3 linked regions of the Homo sapiens genome follow. The protein of the gene in region 1 purifies or fractionates together with the protein of each later gene. This does not show direct contact. Each region holds a gene or a part of one and is shown on either strand. Other genes may lie near its edges. The genes, in order: FBXO22, HPN and TAOK1.

What was found.
Region 2: the proteins of FBXO22 (region 1) and HPN purify together in Homo sapiens (co-immunoprecipitation; one large-scale study listed by IntAct). This does not show direct contact.
Region 3: the proteins of FBXO22 (region 1) and TAOK1 purify together in Homo sapiens (affinity purification with mass spectrometry, with the first as the bait; one study listed by BioGRID). This does not show direct contact.

The regions. Positions count from the first base shown.
Region 1 is NC_000015.10:75,902,251-75,905,997, reverse strand, and holds the start of FBXO22 (F-box only protein 22), read right to left. Parts: upstream 2,121-3,747; 5' UTR 2,035-2,120; coding exon 1,895-2,034; intron 1,508-1,894; coding exon 1,369-1,507; intron 423-1,368; exon of another isoform or gene 341-422; intron 1-340. UniProt on the Homo sapiens protein: Substrate-recognition component of the SCF (SKP1-CUL1-F-box protein)-type E3 ubiquitin ligase complex that is implicated in the control of various cellular processes such as cell cycle control, transcriptional regulation, DNA damage repair, and apoptosis.
Region 2 is NC_000019.10:35,040,212-35,043,958, reverse strand, and holds the start of HPN (serine protease hepsin precursor), read right to left. Parts: upstream 2,239-3,747; 5' UTR 2,087-2,238; exon of another isoform or gene 1,507-2,086; 5' UTR 1,453-1,506; coding exon 1,437-1,452; intron 1-1,436. UniProt on the Homo sapiens protein: Serine protease that cleaves extracellular substrates, and contributes to the proteolytic processing of growth factors, such as HGF and MST1/HGFL. Plays a role in cell growth and maintenance of cell morphology.
Region 3 is NC_000017.11:29,396,811-29,400,457, reverse strand, and holds part of TAOK1 (serine/threonine-protein kinase TAO1), read right to left. Parts: intron 1-3,647. UniProt on the Homo sapiens protein: Serine/threonine-protein kinase involved in various processes such as p38/MAPK14 stress-activated MAPK cascade, DNA damage response and regulation of cytoskeleton stability. Phosphorylates MAP2K3, MAP2K6 and MARK2.

The sequences.
Region 1 (3,747 bases):
GAATTGAAACACGATATTTACATAGTTTCAAATGATCTCTTCACAAAACAATCATTACAGTAGAAGAGTGATTTTAGTGAAGACACTTGGCAAGCATCGCCTTAATTGAGTAATCAAAGGTAATACCACCAATAACAAGACGAATGGAAATCACATGCCACCTAAAGTATGCCGTGAAAAAAGCACAGCATCACTTCTGTGATTATTTCCTGCCAAAGACACAATTGATGGATGTTCTACAAAATAGCCTGTGATTTTCCTAAGTGTCAAGATTGGGAAAAATCAAGCAAAGCTTGAGAAACTGTTCCAGATCAAAGGAGATTAAAGAAACAGGACTTACTCAGAGCAAATTGCAATTGGGAACAGATCTTTTTGCCATGAAGAACCTTACTGGGACAACTGGCAAAATCTGAACCGAGTCTGAGGATAAAATGGTAGAAATGTATCAGTGATAATTTCCTGATTGTGACGGCTGCACCGTAGTTATGTCTGTCTGTAAGCCGTACTAAAGTAAACAGAGTGACAGAGCAGCAGGTTGGCACTTTACTGTCAAATGGTTCCCTTCCACTCCCCAGAGATGGTACACCCTGCAGCCCCTCTGACTCCACAGTTCGAGTCTTCATCTCTCCTGGTGTTGGCTCCCCTTTTGAAGTTGGGGGCCAGAGAAGCAAAAGAGTACAGGATCAGAAGTTGAAATATTTGGCTTTAAGTTTTGGTTCTTGGCTTTCTAGGTGTGCTCACTGAGCAAGACACACCCAGTTGTCTTCCCGGTAAAACAGACAACAAAAAGTTGCTTCAAGGGAAGCAGGTGAAGGGAAGGTTCTGCACAGCGTTGTTGTTAATAGTGAAAATGTGGATACTTAAAAGGCCCAACATGCCGGGCGCGGTGGCTCACGCCTGTAATCCCAGCACTTTGGGAGGCCGAGGCGGGCGGATCACGAGGTCAGGAGATCGAGACCATTCTGGCTAACACGGTGAAACCCCATCTCTACTAAAAATACAAAAAATTAGCTGGGCATGGTGGCGGGCGCCTGTAGTCCCAGCTACTCGGGAGGCTGAGGCAGGAGAATGGCGTGAACCCGGGAGGCGGAGCTTGCGGTGAGCCGAGATCGCGCCACTGCACTCCAGCCTGGGCCACAGAGCGAGACTACGTCTCAAAAAAAAAAAAAAAGGCCCAACATTTGATGAACGGTCAAATAAATCATGACACATCCTTACCGTGTAGTCACTAAAACTGATGTTTACAAAATCTTTTCACGGAACGAGATGTTCCTTTAATTAACAAAACTGGGATTTAAAAAAAAATAGTTCTCAAAGACTGAACCACCAACCTGCAAATGACTGTGCATGACACCCCTTGCTACTTGCCTCAAGCTCCTCTGCTACCACGCGAACCAAGCAATGCCCCTCCAGGTGGCCGGCCTCCGCCAGGCCTGCGGAGATCCAGGTTACGCTCCGATGGGTCCGCAATACTCTGCGCACACACTCCCTCCATAAGCGGCACACGCTGAGGACGCAAACGCACAAAGGATTGCGAACGGACGTTCATTTTCGTCTCTCCCACAGCTCACAAACCCCCACCCGCTGGCGCAGCAGCAGGAGATCCCTGCGGGATCCAAAGTCCCCGGGGTAGGTAGGTGTCAGTCAGGGCGCTAGTTCGGAAGAAGAGCCAGATATGGAGAAAACCTTAAGGGGAACTTCGCCCCTCAGGGAAGTCCCCCCGGGGCACCACGGCTGGGAGATACCTCGCGGGTAGGGGGTCACCTCAGGTAGGGCGAGCGAGCCGGGGACGGCCCTGGTGGGTCCCAAGGGTCTCTCCCCCCACCCCGCCAGCCTGGGACATGCCCACGGCGTGTCCCCAGGCAAGCTTCCCGCCTCCGCCTCCTCTCCTCACCAGGCCACCCGCAGCAACGCCTTGGCGGGCAGGAAGGTGAGCACACGCTCCACCACCTCCGCCAGGTTACTCAACACGAAGGTGCTCCGCGGGTCTACGGAGGAGCCGCGGCACTCGCCGCAGCAGCCTACCGGCTCCATTCCTCACCAGCCCGCCGGAACCAGTCCTACGGCGGCTCGGAGGAACCCGATTACGCCAGCATAGGGTTGCCCGGCCGGCGCGCACTGAGCAGGCGTCCGCGCCACTTCCGGCTGGACGGGGAAGGTGGGCGTGGCAACGCCGGTGCGTTCCCTCGTCTGGAGCCCGTACTCCGAGGTGTACTCCGTTCCGTAATACGCTCGGAACTGTTTTCTTCATTTTTGAGATTGGGTCTAATGCTGTGGCCAGGCGGGAGTGGAGTGGCGCGGCCTCTGCTCACTGCAGCTTCTACCTCCCAGGCTCAAGCGATCCTCCCGCCTCAGCCTCCCTCGTAGCTTTAACTACAAGCTCCCGCCACCACGCCCAGCTAATTTTTGTATTTTTTGTAGAGACGGGTTTCCAGGCTGGTCTGAAACTCCAGGGCTCAAGCGATACTCCCGCCTGGGCCTCCCAAGGTGCTGGAATTACAGACATAAGCCACCGCTCCTGGCAACTTTCTAGGAGGCCTCCTGCAGTGAAAATAAATTCTTCTTCTGTGCCTGTGCCTCTCACTGCCCTGGCACCGCCATATTTCTGAGTTTACATCTTTCTCTAATTCACAAATTCCTTGCAGGGACTAGGTAGTACTTATTGCTCTTCGTAGTCCCAATGCCTGTTTAAATAGCATAAGCTCGATTTATAAACGGACGTTTGCTTTTAAAAAATTGTCTTAGTGTGTGAAAATCACTGCCTTTATTCCTTGTAAACTTAGTTAACTCGTTGTAATCTTCAGGTTTAAAGTTTCGAATGAGTAAAATGGCATAAATAGCACCTGCCATTCTAAGGTAGCTGAGTGAGATGATTGCTGTGAAGCACGCCCCAAGCTGTGCACCAGTTCCCCGCCAGGGACATCAGATTCACCTGGAAACTACTAAGTTTTAGCACATTCCCGGTCCTTATCCCAGACCTCCTGAATCAGACACTGGGGGTGAGGCCCAGCAATCTGTTTTAACACACTTTATGACGATTCTGATGCATGCTCAAACTGAGAACCACCAAGAAATGGAAGCACAGCAGACACAGGTTTGTCCCCACCTAACATCCATTCCTCCCGCCAATTCCTTCCTAAGGGAGCCCTGATTTGATCGCCAGATCTTGGGCAGAAACTTGGTCTAAATTAGCAGTTCTCATTATGGCCTCAGGACCCTTTACACCCTAAAATATTGACACGACCAATAGTTTATGTGTGTTATGACTATCAATATTTACCATATTAAAAATTAAATCAGAACATCTTAATGCTTAACTCTTTTTAAAAAACCGATGTTATACATTAACGAAATATTTTTATGGAAAACAATTATTTCCCAAATCCTCCTTCCCCCACTGGTGGATAGTATGACATTGTCAGTGGCATAAGCCTCCTGAGTAGCTGTGGTTTTTTTCTTTTTTTTGGTAGACCCAGGGTCTATGTTGCCCAGGCTGGTCTCAAACTCCTGGCCTCAAGACATCCCTCTGCCTCCGCCTCCCAAAGCGTTGAGATTACAGGTATGAGCCACCAAGCCCAGCCAGTTTTTTCCCATAGTCTATTTATAGGCGCAGCTGCTTAAGGAAGCCAGATGGCCCAGATGTCACCAGAGCTTCCTGACCCCTTGCGGAATACCAGAGGAAGATAAACAGGCGCCCTCCAGTTACCTTTAGATAATTAACATAATGCTAAAATCCTCTCCCTAAAG
Region 2 (3,747 bases), on another chromosome or scaffold:
CAGGACTCCCCTCCAAGACCAGCCCGGAGCTGCCAGGGAGGCACCAGAGCCCACTTTGTGTCTGTTTCTCTTTGTACCCAGGCCATCTCTGTCCATTCGGGCATTTTCTGCTTTTCTTCCCTGGCTCATTCACCCATGGGCCCAAGCCCTGGGGCTGTCCTTCCGGCAGCTCCAGGAAAGAGATTGTCCCCAAGGAGCTGGATTCTGTCATCCACCTGCTCGGCTAGGGTGCAATGCCTTCTCCTGAGTAACTGGGAGCCTGGGTTCCCTCTGGACTGCAGCTGATTGGTTTGGGGTCTGAATTGCCAGCTGTGCCGAGACCCGAGGAGGCCAGAGATCTGAACTAATCATTTCAGCCAACACGCTCAGTGCTTCCTGCCCATCCTGGCATTTCAGGCCTCGCCCCACGCTGTTGGACATGCACTGTCACCCTCTCCATTTCACAGATGAGAGAATGGAGGCCCAGGGAGAACACGCCGTCTGCCCAGGGCCACACAGCTAGAAAGTGCTACTGCCCAGGACTGAGCCCGGCTATCCTGGTTGCGGAAGAAGAGAGGGAGTCAGCCCCAGCTAGGGGAAGGCAGAAAGAACAGGACGCCCCTCCATGCGCCCCTCCAGCTGGGTCCCATGTGTGAGAGGTAGAAAGGAAGCCAGGCTAGCTGGGGGCTGCCCAGAGACTCCCAAGGGCCAGCAACTCCATGACGCAGTCTCTCTCTCTCATCCTTATGGTGGTTTCTCTGCCGTCTCTCCCCTCTCCATCCATCCAGGCCCAGTCCAAAGTCCTCCCTCTGCTCTTTTGCCCACAGAGCCAGGAGGTGGAGGAATGTCTGGGATCGGTGGGGGTCCTGGGTCTCTGGGACTCCGAGTTTGCCAACCTCTGTCATGACAGCTCTGCTTGATGGCATGCGTCTTATATGCAGAGCCCCAGACCAGTGCCTGGTGTGTGTCATGCACTCAGCAACCTCACAGAGGGAGGACTGGTATCCATGCTTGACCCAGAGGGAGACCAAAGCCCTAAGAATAATGTCACTTGCACCAGATCACACAGCAAAAAAGATGGCAAGAGCAAATTCAAATGCAAGCCTGTGTGTTTCACTCCAAATCTGTGTCCTTAACCATGACAGCTACAGCTTCCCCGCCTCAGCCCCAGCAGAGGACAAGTCCAGAGTTAGCTGAGAAATCACTGGGGGATGAGGGGAAACTGAGGCAGCACGCCAGGAAGGTCACATAGGGTAGAAGGGAGGCTGGTGGTGGCACAGCTGCACAGAAAATGTGGTTAATAGTTAATCAGGTGGAGGAGGACTAACAGGGGTGGGGATGCATCTGGGAGGGGTGCCCAGAGAGAGGGGGCTCCGAAGAGTAGAGGGTAGAGAAAAGAGCACAGAGGGCGGGGCGCCAGGCAGAGCCAAAGCTGGGGCTCAGGGAAGGGGACTCACCCTCCTTCTGCGCCATGTCACTGCCTCTTGTTAATGATTCCCTGGCTGACCTCCTGGGCCAGGGTGGGACCTGTGAGGAGATGGACGGGGAGGCAGGGCCTGGGGGAGCCCAGCCCAGCCCAGTCCTGGCGCCCCCAGTCCCAGGCGTCCATCCAGGCAGGCTGTAGGGACTGGGCCTTGGCCAGAGCACGCCGTGATCACGGACGCAGATTGGGCTGGGTTCAAGGATGGGGTCAGTGTCTGACCAGCAGCGGGGGGACGCCTGGATTTGCAGGGATGGGGACCCCCATGCCTGAGCCTGGTGGAGCAGGGGACTGAGGATCCCGGTTTGAGGGAGGAGACAGCTGAGGACCTGAAATCATAAGTCTTGGGAAAGGAGGAATTTGGGGGCCAGGACTCCCTAGTATGAGGGAGGAGGGGCCTGAGGGCTGGAACTCCTGGGTCTGGGGAGGAAAGGACTGGGGTCCAACGGCTGAGTCTGAAGGAAGAGCAGGACAGAACACCTAGGTGCTTGGGGGGACGTCATAGTGCCCCCTCTTCAGGTCCCCAGGAACCCCTCTATTAGGAGGTGGGCATTAGGCTGGGTGGGGGGATGAGGGAACCCCTGTCCTCAGGGCTGGAACTGTGAGTCTGGGGGCCCTTGTCCTTACCCTGGGGTCCAGCAGGTGGGGGCGGAGCCTCGAGGTAGTGCCGGGGTCGGGTCAGTCTCCAGGCCTGGGCAGGAGCATGGTGGCCCCGCAGCAGCGGGCGGCCTGGAGGCAGAGGCGGTGGCGTGGGGCCTGCTAGGCCAGGCTGCCTCACCTGAGGAGGAGGGGGCTGGGCGAGGGGCGGGTGAAGGGGCGGGGAGGGGCCGGACCATTCGATTGGCAGCACTGGAGGCCACCTGGCTGATGGGGCCGGGCTTGTGGGGGCTGGACCAGGCGGGCCCAGCTACGGGGCTTGCCTTGGACCTCCAGGGGGACCCAGGTGTGCCTGTCTGCGGGGATGTGGGAACAGGGACAGGCCTGGCCGGAGGCTGGGGGTTTAGGGAGAAAGTGCAGGCTGAAGGGTGGGGGTCTGACCAGAAGAGATCAGATGGAGGGCCCCAGCTGCCCTAAGCCCACTCCACCCTCACCCAGCGAACCCTTCCCCCCGCCCTTTCTGCGTCCTCCAGCCCCAGGTCCTGGCTGTGCCCGCCACTTGCTGCACCTCTGCCTAATTCCCTGCCCAATTCCTGGGCCCCAACCCCAGCCCCAGCCTCTCCCGCCTGCCCTGCTCATCCTGCCCCGGCCCCTCCCCCGCTGGCTTCCTACAAGTCACGGGGCTGGTTTGCTTTGGCAGCCTCCGCCCGGCCGCGGTGACCTCTGGAGCCAGAAAGTCCTAGCACTAGATAGGGGGGATGGGGGGCTTGGCCGGGAAAACACAGCGCTAAGGGCAGAGGCCCAGGCCAAGTGGCCGGAAGCGTCCGCAGGCAGATAACACACTGTCCCGCCAGCAGCCAGGCGCGGCCCACGTCAGACCCAGGGCCAGGTAAACACCAGACGTGCAGGGTCACCGCCAGACACCTGCCCGTGCTCAACCACACGCCGGACACAGTCGGCCTCGGCTGCTTGCCCCAGATAGGCCACCCGCACAACCGGCCCCACCCGCTTACCCACACGTGCCCGCTGTGCCCAGCCAAACCCACCTCCACCGCACCCATTTCCTCCACTCAGCCCAGGGCCCCTCATTGGGACACGCTGGTTTAGCCTGGCTTCCTCTGCCTTTCCATCCATACCCGTCTCTCCTTCCCTCTCCTTCTCCCCAGCGCCCACCTCTCCAGAGACTCACACTGCTGGGCACACCACACACCCCATGCCACCCCTGCACCCCAGCATCAGCCTCGATTCTCTTCCCTCCACGGCACCCCCTCCCTTCCTGGCTCCGTTCCACTCTCCCTCACCCCTGAGCCCATGGCTCCCCCAACCCCGACACAGATCAGGCACTAAGTGGCTTCACCTGTGGGCCCTCAGGTAGGGTCCCTGGAAAGCGGGCTCGAAGATTCGGGGACGGGAATGGGGGGAAGGTGACGGGGCTCACAATCGAAACTATGCATCAAGTCCAAGAGTCTTTATTTCATGAACAAAACTACTTCTGTAAAGAGACGAGGCTGAATGGGCCCCTTTCTAGGTGGCCACAGTTCAAGGCTGGTGAGAGAGGGCGAGGTTGGGCCGGGGCAGGAGTGCATTACAGGGAGGGGGGACCCCAGGTCCAGCCGGAGGAAGCGGGAGGGGAAATGATGCCGGGGAGGGGGAGTCGGAGTGGGTCCCAGAACCCCCTGCCCCAAACTGCT
Region 3 (3,647 bases), on another chromosome or scaffold:
TTTTCTTAAATAAACAAAGTAAGTACTGGAAAAGAAATGTCATTTGTTGTTTTTTTTTTTTTTTTTTGAGACGGAGTTTTGCTCTTGTCTCCCAGGCTGGAGTGCAATGGCGCGATCTCGGCTCATTGCAACCTCTGCCTGGTTCAAGTGATTCTCCTGCCTCAGCCTCCCAAGTAGCTGGGATTACAGGCGCCCACTACCACACCCAGCTAATTTTTGTGTTTTTAGTAAAGACGGGGTTTCACCACTTTGGCCAGGATGGTCTTGAACTCCTGACCTCAAGCAATCCACCCACCTCGGCCTCCCAAAGTGCTGAGATTACAGGCCTGAGCCACCACGCCCGGCCTGAAATGTCATTTCTTAAGACAGGCTTTATATCCAGCAAAGGAAAAAGAAAACCTGTGATAAATTAAAAACTCCCATCAGAGGTGGGCACAGTGGCTCCTGTGTATAATCTCACCACTTTGGGAGAACAAGGCAGAAGGATCACTTAAACTCAGAAGATCAAGACCAACCTGGGCAACATAGTGAGATCTCGTCTGTACTAAAAATAAAAAAAAATTAGCCAGGTGTGGTGGTGCACGCCTGTAGTCCTAGCTGCTGAGGTGGCTGAGGTGAGAGGATCGCTAAGTCCAGAAGATTGAGGCTGTAGTGAACTTTGATCTCACCACTGCACTCCAGCCTGAGTGACAGAGCGAGAATCTATCCCAAAGAAAGAAAAAAACTCCCATTAAGTACTACACAGTAGTCCATTATAGGTGCAAAAAGTTACTAAGCTACCTTGATATTCTAACTATTTCTTTCAAAAATGTATGTCAGACTCCAGATATATAAATCCAATATCACCAGGCGCAGTGGCTCACGCCTGTAATCCCAGCACTTTGGGAGGCCAAGGCGGGCAGATCACGAGGTCAGGAGATCAAGACCATCCTGGCTAACACGGTGAAACCCCGTCTCTAATAAAAATACAAAAATTTAGCCAGGCATAGTGGCGGGCGCCTGTAGTCCCAGCTACTTGGGAGGCTGAGGCAGGAGAATGGCATGAACAGGGCAGGCAGAGGTTGCAGCGAGCCGAGATTGTGCCACTGCACTCCATCCTGGGCAACAGAGCGAGACTCCGTCTCAAAATAAATAAATAAAAATAAATCCAATATCAAATCAAAATTATATAATGCAACTCATCCTTAAATATTAGACTCTCCCCAGCACTTTGGGAGGCTGAGGCAGGTGGAACCACTTGAGCTCAGGAGTTCGATACCAGACCAGGCAACATGGCAAAACCCCATCTCCACAAAAAATACAAAAATTAGCCAGGCAGTGGCATTTGCCTGTAGTCCTAGCTACTTGGAGGGCAAAGGTGGGTGGATCACTTGAGCCTGGGAGGTCAAGGCTGCAGGCAGCCGAGATCGTGCCACTGCACTCCAGTCTGGGTGACAGGAGTGAGACCCTGTCTCAAAAAAAAAAAAAAAAAAATTATCTCAATGTACTCATAAACATTTATATTAGGCAGCTAGTGTGTGATAGCCAACAATTTATTGAGTGTTAGCATGTATCAGGCAGTAAGTTAAGTACTTAGCAAGCATTATCCTATTTAAACAACCCAGTATATACTATCTTCACATTAACGGGTGTGGTGGCTCATGCCCGCCTGTAATCCCAGCACTTTGGGAGGCCAAGGTGGGTGGATCACCTGAGGTCAGGAGTTCAAGACCAGCCTGGCCAACATGGTGAAACCCTGTCTCTACTAAAAAAACAAAAACATTAGCCAGGCATGGTGGCACATGCCTATAATCCCAGCTACCCGGGAGGCTGAGGCAGGAGAATCACTTGAACCTGGGAGGCTGAGGTTGCAGTTAGCCGAGATCACGCCATTGCACTCCAGCCTGGGCAACAAGAGCAAAACTCCATCTCTAAAAAAGAAAAGAAAAGAGAAAAGAAAAGAAAAGAAAAGAAGCCTGGCGCAGTGGTTCACATCTGTAATCCCAACACTTTGGGAGGCCAAGGCAGGCGATCACCTGAGGTCACGAGTTCATGACCAGCCTGACCAACATGGAGAAACCCCGTCTCTACTAAAAATACAAAAAATTAGCTGGGCATGGTGGCGCATACCTGTAATCCCAGCTGTTGGGAGGCTGAGGCAGGAGAATCGCTTGAACCTGGGAGGCAGGGGTTGCAGTGAGCGAGATCATGCCATTGCACTCCAGCCTGGGCAACAAGAGCAAAATTCCGTCTCAAAAAAAAAGAAAAGAAAAGGTGAGGCATAAATAGTTAAATAAAGAAGTTACCACAGGCCTGGTACTGTGGCTCATGCCTGTAATCCCAGCTCTTTGGGATGCTGAGGAGGGAGGACTGCCTGAGCCCCCATGAGTTTGAGACCAGATTGGGCAACATAGAGACCCCGTTTCTCGAAAAAAACTTTAAAATAAGCCAAGTATGGTGGCATAGGCCTGCAGTCTCAGCTACTCACGGCTTCGGCCCTGAAGGTAGAGGCTGCTATGGGCCATGACTGTGCCACTGCACTCCCACCTGGGTGACACAGCAAGACCCCATCTCAAAAAAACAAAAACTGAAAAAGTTACACATTTACACTAGTAAATGGTGACATACATATATATATATACACATATATATACATGTATATACATATATACATACATGAATATACATATATACACACGAATATACATGTATACATATATACATACGTGTATATATACGTGTATATATGTATATACATACATGTATATTCATGTATGCATACATGAATATACATGTATACATGTATACATGTATCATACATGAATATACATATATACATGTATACATGTATATATATATATATATTTTTTTGGGGGGGGACGGAATCTCACTCTGTTGCCCAGGCTGGAGTGCAATGGCACGATCTCGGCTCACTGCAACCTCCGCCTGCTGAGTTCAAGCAACTCTCCTGCCTCAACTTCCTGAGTAGCTGAGACTACAGGTGCGCGCCACCATGCCCGGCTAATTTTTTGTATTTTTAGTAGAGACAGGGTTTCACCATGCTGGCCAGGCTGGTCTCGAACTCCTGACCTTGTGTTCTGCCCACCTTGGCCTCCCAAAGTGCTGAGATTACAGGCGTGAGCCACGGCACCCAGCCATTTTTTAACTTTTTTATTATTTTCTTGAGACAGAGTCTCACTCTGTCACCCAGGCTGGAATGCAGTGGCACGATCTTGGCTCACTGCAACCACTGCCTCCCAGGTTCAAATGATTCTCCTGCCTCAGCCTCCCGAGTAGCTGGGACTACAGACAAGTGCCACCACGCCCGGCTAATTTTTGTATTTTTAGTAGAGACGAGGTTTCGCCACGTTGGCCAGGCTCGTCTGCAACTCCTGACCTCAGGTGATCCACCCGCCTCAGCCTCCCAAAGTGCTGGGATTACAGGCGTGAGCCACCATGCCCAGCCCTTTTTTTTTTTTTTTTTTTTTGAGACAGAGTTGTACTCTGTTGCCCAGCTAGAGTGCAGTGGCACAATCTCAGCTCACTGCAACCACTACCTCCCAAGTTCCAGCGATTCTCCTGCCTCAGCCTCCCAAGTAGCTGGGATTACAGGCACACGCCACCACGCCCAGCTAATTTTTTGTATTTTTAGTAGAGACGGGTTTCCT